3 linked regions of the Homo sapiens genome follow. The protein of the gene in region 2 interacts with the protein of the main gene of each other region in a pairwise test. Each region holds a gene or a part of one and is shown on either strand. Other genes may lie near its edges. The genes, in order: HBD, NME4 and CCDC102B.

The links.
Region 1: the proteins of NME4 (region 2) and HBD interact in binary tests that used the Homo sapiens proteins (3 or more experiments, as listed by UniProt).
Region 3: the proteins of NME4 (region 2) and CCDC102B interact in binary tests that used the Homo sapiens proteins (3 or more experiments, as listed by UniProt).

Annotation. Positions count from the first base shown.
Region 1 is NC_000011.10:5,233,143-5,236,894, reverse strand, and holds the start of HBD (hemoglobin subunit delta), read left to right. Parts: upstream 1-2,411; 5' UTR 2,412-2,461; coding exon 2,462-2,553; intron 2,554-2,681; coding exon 2,682-2,904; intron 2,905-3,752. UniProt on the Homo sapiens protein: Involved in oxygen transport from the lung to the various peripheral tissues.
Region 2 is NC_000016.10:395,294-399,045, forward strand, and holds the start of NME4 (nucleoside diphosphate kinase, mitochondrial isoform a precursor), read left to right. Parts: upstream 1-1,905; 5' UTR 1,906-1,929; coding exon 1,930-2,020; intron 2,021-2,448; exon of another isoform or gene 2,449-2,886; intron 2,887-2,914; exon of another isoform or gene 2,915-3,101; intron 3,102-3,696; coding exon 3,697-3,752.
Region 3 is NC_000018.10:68,796,386-68,800,137, forward strand, and holds the start of CCDC102B (coiled-coil domain-containing protein 102B), read left to right. Parts: upstream 1-1,694; 5' UTR 1,695-1,796; intron 1,797-1,885; exon of another isoform or gene 1,886-2,067; intron 2,068-3,752. UniProt on the Homo sapiens protein: During interphase, forms fibers at the proximal ends of centrioles to maintain centrosome cohesion. During mitosis, dissociates from the centrosome following phosphorylation to allow centrosome separation. Contributes to CROCC/rootletin filament formation.

The sequences.
Region 1 (3,752 bases), on a different chromosome or scaffold from region 2:
GTAACCAGATCTCCCAATGTGTAAAATCATTTCAGGTAGAACAGAATTAAAGTGAAAAGCCAAGTCTTTGGAATTAACAGACAAAGATCAAATAACAGTCCTCATGGCCTTAAGAATTTACCTAACATTTTTTTTAGAATCAATTTTCTTATATATGAATTGGAAACATAATTCCTCCCTCACAAACACATTCTAAGATTTTAAGGAGATATTGATGAAGTACATCATCTGTCATTTTTAACAGGTAGTGGTAGTGATTCACACAGCACATTATGATCTGTTCTTGTATGTTCTGTTCCATTCTGTATTCTTGACCTGGTTGTATTCTTTCTGAGCTCCAGATCCACATATCTAAGTACATCTTTTTGCATTTTACAAGAGTGCATACAATACAATGTATCCAAGACTGTATTTCTGATTTTATCGTACCACTAAACTCACAAATGTGGCCCTATTCTTGTGTTCACGACTGACATCACCGTCATGGTCCAAGTCTGATAATAGAAATGGCATTGTCACTTTCTTCCCTACTGCAACAGAAGCCCAGCTATTTGTCTCCCATTTTCTCTACTTCTAAAATACATTTCTTCACTAAGTGAGAATAATCTTTTAAAGACACAAATCAAACCATGCCACCACCTTTCTTGAATTATTCAATATCTTTCGTTGGCTTCCAGGTTACAGAAAAATAACTTGTAACAAAGTTTAAAGGTCATTCATGGCTCCTCTCTACCCTATTTTATAACATTTCCCCTTGTGATCAGAATCTCAGGCACATCATCCATCTTTCTATATACAAATAAAGTCATATAGTTTGAACTCACCTCTGGTTACTTTTAATCAACCAAATGCTGTAAAATGCATTTGTATCGCTACGTGTTAAGCAGTAGTTGATTCTTTTCATTTCTGTGTAATATTCTATTCTTTGACTATACCGTAATTTATCAATTCTACTGTTGGTAAGCATTTAAGTGGCTACCGGTTTGAGGTTTTTATGATTATTGCTGTCATAAGCATTTCTATACATGTCTTTGGATACACACATGCATGTGTTTCTGAATATCTAAAAATGTAATTGCTAGGTAATAGACTTATCAAGCATCCAGCATTTGTGGATACTATTAAAGGTTTTCCAAAGGGGTTATACTATTGTACAGTGTCACCAACAGAGTTTGAGTTTCTATTGATCCATATCACCACCAAAATTTGAACTGTCAGTCTTATCTCTTCTCTTGTCTCTTTTTTCCTCTTTTTTTTCCTTCCCTTCCCCTCTCTTCGTTTCTTTTCTCTCCTCTTCTCTTCTTTCCTCTCTTCCCTTCCCTTTCTCTTTCTCTTCCCTATCCCTTCTCCTCTCCTCTCCCCTCCTTTTTTCTCCTCTCCTCTCCATTATTTATTTTTCCTTCTTCTCCTCCATCCCTTCCATCCTCTCTCTTCCCCTCTTCCTTCCTTCCTTTCTCCATTTCTTCCTCCTCTTTCCTTCAATCCTTCCTTTTGGATATGCTCATGGGTGTGTATTTGTCTGCCATTGTGGCATTATTTGAATTCAGAAAAGAGTGAAAAACTACTGGGATCTTCATTCCTGGGTCTAATTCCACATTTTTTTTTAAGAACACATCTGTAAAAATGTTCTGTACTAGCATATTCCCAGGAACTTCGTTAAATTTAATCTGGCTGAATATGGTAAATCTACTTTTCACTTTGCATTCTTTCTTTAGTCATACCATAATTTTAAACATTCAAAATATTTGTATATAATATTTGATTTTATCTGTCATTAAAATGTTAACCTTAAAATTCATGTTTCCAGAACCTATTTCAATAACTGGTAAATAAACACTATTCATTTTTTAAATATTCTTTTAATGGATATTTATTTCAATATAATAAAAAATTAGAGTTTTATTATAGGAAGAATTTACCAAAAGAAGGAGGAAGCAAGCAAGTTTAAACTGCAGCAATAGATTTGTCCATTCCAACCTCTCAAAATTCCCTTGGAGACAAAAATCTCTAGAGGCAAAGAAGAACTTTATATTGAGTCAACTTGTTAAAACATCTGCTTTTAGATAAGTTTTCTTAGTATAAAGTGACAGAAACAAATAAGTTAAACTCTAAGATACATTCCACTATATTAGCCTAAAACACTTCTGCAAAAATGAAACTAGGAGGATATTTTTAGAAACAACTGCTGAAAGAGATGCGGTGGGGAGATATGTAGAGGAGAACAGGGTTTCTGAGTCAAGACACACATGACAGAACAGCCAATCTCAGGGCAAGTTAAGGGAATAGTGGAATGAAGGTTCATTTTTCATTCTCACAAACTAATGAAACCCTGCTTATCTTAAACCAACCTGCTCACTGGAGCAGGGAGGACAGGACCAGCATAAAAGGCAGGGCAGAGTCGACTGTTGCTTACACTTTCTTCTGACATAACAGTGTTCACTAGCAACCTCAAACAGACACCATGGTGCATCTGACTCCTGAGGAGAAGACTGCTGTCAATGCCCTGTGGGGCAAAGTGAACGTGGATGCAGTTGGTGGTGAGGCCCTGGGCAGGTTGGTATCAAGGTTATAAGAGAGGCTCAAGGAGGCAAATGGAAACTGGGCATGTGTAGACAGAGAAGACTCTTGGGTTTCTGATAGGCACTGACTCTCTGTCCCTTGGGCTGTTTTCCTACCCTCAGATTACTGGTGGTCTACCCTTGGACCCAGAGGTTCTTTGAGTCCTTTGGGGATCTGTCCTCTCCTGATGCTGTTATGGGCAACCCTAAGGTGAAGGCTCATGGCAAGAAGGTGCTAGGTGCCTTTAGTGATGGCCTGGCTCACCTGGACAACCTCAAGGGCACTTTTTCTCAGCTGAGTGAGCTGCACTGTGACAAGCTGCACGTGGATCCTGAGAACTTCAGGGTGAGTCCAGGAGATGCTTCACTTTTCTCTTTTTACTTTCTAATCTTACATTTTGGTTCTTTTACCTACCTGCTCTTCTCCCACATTTTTGTCATTTTACTATATTTTATCATTTAATGCTTCTAAAATTTTGTTAATTTTTTATTTAAATATTCTGCATTTTTTCCTTCCTCACAATCTTGCTATTTTAAATTATTTAATATCCTGTCTTTCTCTCCCAACCCCCTCCCTTCATTTTTCCTTCTCTAACAACAACTCAAATTATGCATACCAGCTCTCACCTGCTAATTCTGCACTTAGAATAATCCTTTTGTCTCTCCACATGGGTATGGGAGAGGCTCCAACTCAAAGATGAGAGGCATAGAATACTGTTTTAGAGGCTATAAATCATTTTACAATAAGGAATAATTGGAATTTTATAAATTCTGTAGTAAATGGAATGGAAAGGAAAGTGAATATTTGATTATGAAAGACTAGGCAGTTACACTGGAGGTGGGGCAGAAGTCGTTGCTAGGAGACAGCCCATCATCACACTGATTAATCAATTAATTTGTATCTATTAATCTGTTTATAGTAATTAATTTGTATATGCTATATACACATACAAAATTAAAACTAATTTGGAATTAATTTGTATATAGTATTATACAGCATATATAGCATATATGTACATATATAGACTACATGCTAGTTAAGTACATAGAGGATGTGTGTGTATAGATATATGTTATATGTATGCATTCATATATGTACTTATTTATGCTGATGGGAATAACCTGGGGATCAGTTTTGTCTAAGATTTGGGCAGAAAAAAATGGGTGTTGGCTCAGTTTCTCAGAAGCCAGTCT
Region 2 (3,752 bases):
AATTGTTGGGATAATAGGCCTGAGCAAGAGTCCAGCCTCTAAAAAGAAAGAAAGTCACTTCTTTATACCATAGTACTGCAAATTCTAGTCAGAGCAACTAGACAAGAAAATAAAATAAAAGGCATTCAGATTGGAAAGAAAGAACTGAAACCGTCTCTATTCCCATATGACATGATGTTTTTTCTTTTCTTTTTTTTTTTTTTTTTGAGACAGAGTCTTGCTCTGTTGCCCAGGCTGGAGTGCAGTGGCATGCTCTCGGCTCATTGTGAGCTCCACCTCCTGGGTTCAAGCCATTCTCCTGCCTCAGCCTCCTGAGTAGCTGGGATTACAGGCATGCACCACCATGTCCAGCTAATTTTTGTATTTTTAGTAGAGACGGGGTTTCACCACGTTGACCAGGCTGGTCTTGAACTCCTGACCTCGTGATCCGCTCGCCTCGGGCTCCCAAAGTGCTGGGATTACAGACATGAGCCAGTGTGCCCCGCTCCATATGACACAATCTTATACAAAGAAATTCCCAAGGAATTAATTAAAAACTATTAGAACTAATAAATGCATTTGGAAGGCTTGCAGGATACAAGATCAATACACAAAGCTCAATTGTTGGCCAGGCGTGGTGGCTCACGCCTGTAATCCCAGCCCTTTGGGAGGCCAAGGCGGGTGGATCACCTGAGGCCACGAGTTTGAGACCAGCCTGGCCAACATGGCGAAACCCCGTCTCTACTAAAAATAAAAAAAAACACCAGCCAGGTGTGGTGGCAAGCTCCTGTAATTCCATCTACTCGGGAGCCTGAGGCAGGATAACTGCTTGAACCTGGGAGGCGGAGGCTGCAGTGAGCAGAGATATGCCATTATTGCACTCCAGCCTGGGCAACAAGAGCGACACTCTGTCTGAAAACAAACAAACCTCAATTGTCTGTTATACACTTGCAATGGACAATTCAAATAAGAAAACAATTCCATTCACAATAGCAGCAAAAAGAACAGGCTTTTTCAAGACTCATTAAGTAAGTTCTAGCAGTGGGAGACCTAACCATTTCAAATAGTAGCATGCTGTGCTATCTACCCAAATATTACCGTACCTGTGAATTCTGTTGGTGACAAAGTCACAGGCCCTGCAACTATGAATGTGGCTTCTTCCTTATATCCGCAATTGAATGAATTAGAGGAATGCAGTCACATCAGAGGCCATTTGAGAATAAAGGTCGGATTTTTCCCCATTCAAATTCACAGACCAGGCTCACATCTGTAATCCCAGCACCTTGGGAAGCCAAGGCAGGAGGATTTCTTGATCCCAGGAGTTTGAGACCAGCATGGGCAACATAGGGAGGCCCCATCTCTACAAAAAATTAAAATATTAGCTGGTTGTGGTGGCGCGGGTCTGTAGTCCCGCCTACTCGTCCTGGCCGCAGAGTCAGCGTCTCCGGAGCGCCTCCTTCTCCCGCCCTGGGGCTCACGTGGGAATTTCACCCTCCATTGGAGGGGGCTCAGACCAGGGCTTCTAGACCTCCTTTTGGTCCGTGAATTTATTTTTGAGACAGAGTCTTGCTCTATTGCTCAGGCTGGAGTGCAGCGGTGCAGTCACAGCTCACTGCAGCCTCAATCTCCTGGGCTCACGCGATCCTCCTGCCTCAGCCTCCCGAGTGGGCCTTCCTCCGTGGGAAAGCGTTAAAACGATAGTTAACGGTTGCGTCGGTGTAAAGACGAATGCAATTCGAGAAGGATTCATTATTATTTTGTTTTTTCTTCTGATTTTTAACAGAAATTGGCGTTGAACATTTCCCCCGTGAGCGCCGGGCCACGGGGGTCCGGGGCGGCGGGGGGCTCCGGGGCGGCGGGGGGCTCCCGGGCGGGCGGGGGCGGGTCTCGGGCTGGCACCGCCCTCCGCGCCCGCTCCTCGCGCTCACAGCGGCCCGCGGGCCGGGCGTCATGGGCGGCCTCTTCTGGCGCTCCGCGCTGCGGGGGCTGCGCTGCGGCCCGCGGGCCCCGGGCCCGAGCCTGCTAGTGCGCCACGGCTCGGGTGAGTGGGGCCGCGCGCCCCGGCGGGGACGCGGAGGGGAGGAAGGGGCGCGCGCCGCTCGGCCTTTGTGCGCGCACGTGCGGGCTGGGGTCCGACTCCCCCAGAGGCCTCGGGGCGCGGGCTGCGGGGTCCGTCCGAGTTGGGGAAGGCGCCGGCTCGCACCCGCACGCCCCTCCAGTGCCCGTCCGGCTCTGCGGCTCCTTCTCGCCTCCCCAGGCCCCAGGCTGCAGGCGCCCGGCGAGTTGGCAGCCTGGGCGGGTCCGGGGCGACCGAGGGCCCGGGAGCGCAAGGAAGGCAGAGGCCGGCTGCAGCACTGGGCGGGGAGGGGGTCTCCCGGCCGGGGTGGGGGTGGGGGTGTGGGGGGGTGAGGGAGTCGGGGGGTGGGGGTGGGGGTGTGGGGGGGTGAGGGAGTCGGGGGGTGGGGGTGGGGGGAGCCGCTCCGCTGGGGCGTTCGCTGAAGGCCAAGTTAGGCCAGAATCTGACTGGGACGTCAGGCCCCAAGTCCCCGGCCCCGCCGCTGCCCGGCCCCCCCAGCTGCCACCTCACAGGACGATCCATGTCCCAGGGCTCCCTCCATCGGCTCTGAAAAGTGAGCCGCCGCCTGCAATGCCCGCACCAGCCGCAGCAGAGCCCCAGGCTACACAAGGCGCCCTGCAAACTGGGTTTTGGGGGAACAAACCAACCAGGGGGTCTTCCTCCCGTGGGCTTCAGCCGCCTGCTGGGGTTAACTTTTCCTCCTGGCCTGGCGGAGCCCCTTTGGCTCTGTCCAGATTCTGTGGGACATACAGGGTCTGGGCTCCTCTGGAAACCAGGGACCCGATGCCGGAGGGTAGCTTGGCTCTGGAGCAGCCTGGGACTATAGGAAGGTGAGGACGTCTTCTGTTTCCCTGGCAGCGTCCCCTCCAGAGGAGGACGGCTGGGGCGGAGCTCAGCGCTGACCCTGGGTCTGGAAGCGACAGGCCTTGAAACTCCACAGCAGCACAGGCCCCGTCTCCTGGCTCGGACAGAACCCTGCTACCTTCCCTCTTCAATCTTCAGGCCCCTTTTTGTCCGTGTTTCCAGGGCTCACCTGGTGGGGAAAGTGTGTTTCTCCCTGGTTCCCTGCCACTCATTCACCTCAGACACAGGGTGGGCTCTGGGTTCTTCCTCATGTGGAAAGTCGGGGCTTCAGACCATGTCTGTCGTCATCCAGAAGGGATGGAGTCAAAAGTGAGGCTGGAGTTTTGCAGGATCTCCAGACTTCCCTGAGGCCACTGAGCTGGGCTGTGCCTCTGTGGACCTCAGGGTGGTCGCTGAGCTGGGCTGTCCCTCCCTGGACCTTGAGGTGGTCCCTGAGCTGGCTCTGCCTCTATGGACCTTGCGGTGGTGGTCCCTGAGCTGGGCAGTGCCTCCCTGAACCTCGGGGCGATCTCAGGCAGCCTCTGCCTCTGCTGGGAGGAGCCATGGCCCCTGGGAGAGGCTAGAAGCCCTGGGGACACATTGCCTTGGGTGTCCCTGACAGGGACTATCATGGGGGTGTTTGTGGCTGTGGGCACCATCCCTGTCCCTTCCAGAGTGCCCTGCATAGAGGCAGACACCCTGAAGCCTGGTGACCCCTGGGCTCTGGCTGGGAAACCCGGGTCGTGGGGACGTGAAAGGGTGAGGTGGCAGTGCCTCTGACCTCTTGCCTTTTGAAGGAGGGCCCTCCTGGACCCGGGAGCGGACCCTGGTGGCGGTGAAGCCCGATGGCGTG
Region 3 (3,752 bases), on a different chromosome or scaffold from region 2:
AGAGATGATGATTTCAGTTTAGATAAGCTGATGCCATATCTGTGTAATTTTCTAGTTGAGGGGTATAGTGGGCTGACAAATATGAGTATTGAAAATTCAGACAGTCATTGGGTCTAAAAGTAGATATTTGGGAGTCATCTAAAAAGAAAGATGGTAATTTAAACTATGAGGATGGGTGGCTTTATCCAGAGAGAGAATATACCATTTATATGTAGATTTATCTAAGAACATATGTGATGCACACCAAAGGATGGATGGAGGATGAGGCATCATCAAAGAGGGTGAGAAGGGCCAGCAAAAGAGGTCAAGAGGAAAACCAGGAGAGTGTTATGCCAAGACAAGAGATGTCTTCATGTGGGCAGGGTTGTGAACAGTATGAAAGGCTGTGTAGATGTCAACTAGAAGGATTGAGGTGAGTTAGAAAAATTAAAAATAAATAGAATATTTATGTACATGCATGTGTGTGTGTGTGTGTGTGTGTGTGTATTGTCACTTTGATGAATTAAAATCAGGTGGATGCAAGACTAAATAAAATTCTTGGCTGGAGAACTTTCAATCATTTGGCCATGACAGAAAGAATGGTACCTGAAAGTGAAAATGACTGAATTAAAAGTAAAGTTCATTGGCATACATGAAATTGACTAGAGAATGTATGGTATTTAACATCACGTGGGGAAAATCCGGACAGGAGGGAACGTTCAAAGATAGAGGAGAGAGAATCATGATTAAGTTTAGCTCGATGGGTCAATTGGCTTTATACAGGAAGATGGCCACCTTTTCCATTGCATCAGAAAGTAAGTGGGAAAAGAATGTTAAGTAGAGATAGATGATAACACCGTAATAAGCCTACAAATTAGGGAAGGGTGAAAAATAAAATAATTTGAAGACATTTATTGCCTAAATTTCAAATGTTGTTTTTTTGCTACTTAAAAGGAGCAAGGCTATCCTGTTACCTTTTGACTTTTCTTTTTTACTTTGGACATTTTTTTGCTGCTAGTTTCAACCAGAGAAGCTCTTTTTTATGTGATCTCTCGCCTCCCCCCTCAACCCCCATCAGAACACTTCCTGACAGCTGAGTCATGTCAATGGAAAGCTACTTCATATTCTTTTTCCCCAGGGAAAGGGGCCAGAGAGCTTTCACTGGGCACCCCGGGGACTACAGCTCACAATTCCTGCCAATGTGACCACAATCAAGGGTTTTGACATGCAGTTATTGTTTCATGATTTGTATACTCAAATCTTTTATTAAATATGATTTCTTTTGCTTTTGTGCAATCTAATGCAAATCAGATTGGATGAATATTTTATATTGTTCCTGTAATGTGCAGTATAATTTCCTTTTAAATATTTTTCAGATAGGTACTTCCTGGGCTTTTTTTTTTTTTTGCTTTGCTATTTTAGTTTTTCTATTATTATTACAAGTTATACTGTTGTAATTAAACATTAAGAACACTTGTGGATCAAGGCGTGGGTGTCTTTTTCTTTTTCATCCACAGTACAGGTTTCAAATGGTTGTATGGAAAGCTTTGGATAACCATACTTAGGGAACATTAAAAATGGTTTTATTTTGGTTGGCTCAATGGTGATCCAAAGAGGGGGTTGTGGTAGTGGTTTCAATAAAACTTCACAACCAATGGGAATCTTTTTTGAGTTTGTGTGGAGTGCCCTTAATGCTGGAAATAATCCTGTTGGCTAGGACTCCAGAACTGTACGGATGAGAAAAGGATGCAGGAAATTCTGTTGTTTACACATGTGGCTGCAACTGAGACACTGGAGCAGCCCAGCAAGCCCAGAGGGTAAGAGTGTTTAATAACCTTGTGGTTTTCTATTTAATTTTTATATTTTCCTGCTGAGGTACAGCATGTGTTGTTCTCAGAGCAAAGACAGTTGCTTACAAGATGCAGAGCAAAACTACTGTAGAGCTGGGAAGCAGAAGGATTTGGAGTTTCTTTTTAAAGTGATTCCTTCCTTTCCCCTTTCATTTTTCCACTGTGGGTGTTATTATCCTGACAATTTGTCATACATTTCCTGTCTTTAAAAAATAACTGTATACTAAGCAAAACTCAGGTAAGAATTTCGACTCTACATTTAGACAGTAATAGTATATGTTGATATTAAAATTTTGTTTCATTGTTCCAAATGAATGTGAATTAGTCATTGTGTTTGAAGTAATCTATATTCTTACAGTAAAAAAGTAAAATTGTTATGGAAATCCTCCTATCTATGCCTCATGTACCTTGAATTCTTTTCAATTGTTGAGTCTTCATGCTAAATTCTTGTATTCGTTAATGGAAAGTATATTTCAAACTTAGCATGAATATTGATTTCTTTACATGCTACCTGTATAGTGTGGAGGAGACAGGGATACAGAATAAAATAATAAAATCCTGTGCATAATAAAAAGTAATGCTTAGCTATATAGAAGTAAATTATAAAACTGAAAAAAAATCTCTGGAAACCTTTGGGAAGCATTTGCTTACGTTTTCTGCAAAGATAAATTATCAATTGAATGTCAAGTGAGTACATTTATTAAATATAAATATAAGAAAGATTCGTCAAAAAATATAATTAGAAATATGTCAGTAACATAGGACCAAAATATATAAAATATTTATTGATATTCTTATTTACATCAATACCAGTTTTTCTGTTTTCTAAAATAATGTGAATGTGTTTTTGCTAATAATTTTCATGGGAAATGGTGTTATTACAACTTTTGAGTAAATATTCTCTTGTTAGTAAAATATGTTATTGCCAATAAATATTTTTATATATCCAGTAAATATTCTTGAATTCTATTTCATATTTTAATGAAAGCAATAAATTAGAAAGAAGATTTATAAGTTAGCGATACAATATCTGTGTAGGTTTGTGTGACCTATTTGAATATATTCAGAAAAATGCTTTATGTGAATTGCTTTATTTTCCAAAATATCCTATGTTCTTATGAAATCATAGATAATTTCATTGTCTCTCTTTTGCATCCTTCATATGTTATCATTGGATTCAATAATTGCTTGATCACTGGGACATTGTTTCTGGGCCTCACTATGGGTTTGGCTTCAAGGTAATTTATGAATGTTTCATCTAATTATTACAGTTACAAAACAATGGCTGTAATTCTTAAAATACAAGAAATGCTCTCAGGTCGTCATATCTCTTATGCTGATATTACAAGACCAATTGAATTCTGCCATAATGCCAAAATATTCAGAAATTCCCTTTTTAGCAGGTATGTGAGTCCTAAAGAGATGCCAGAGGCTTTAAAGAAAAGTTCAACTTCTTGAACTTAGTCTTGAAAAACTAGTGGAACTTGGATAGGTGCTGAAAGCAAGAGGAATACTCTACTTTGAAGAAGTAATTGGCAAAAAGGGTTTTGAACACAAATTAGCATAGAGCATAAAAGAATGGTGAGTAATTTATCTGATTGGAGCAGAAAAAATATACCTTTGTGAGTATCAGACGTTGTACTCAATACATAGAACAGGAAAAATTGATAGAGCATCTTAACATTGCACACAGAAAAATGTGGCCTTTACATATCATACAAAGGGGACAATTGCAAGTTTCTGAAAAGAGGTGGAGTATCTGTGCCTCTTTTCATCATCTTTACCATAATCATCATCATCATCATTTTGCCAACACATAATAGCATTTTCTGCTTGCAAGGTGATTTACATACATATCCACAATTTTGATAGCTTTGCAAGAAAATGAACATTATTTTACACATTATTTTCATTTTGCACTTG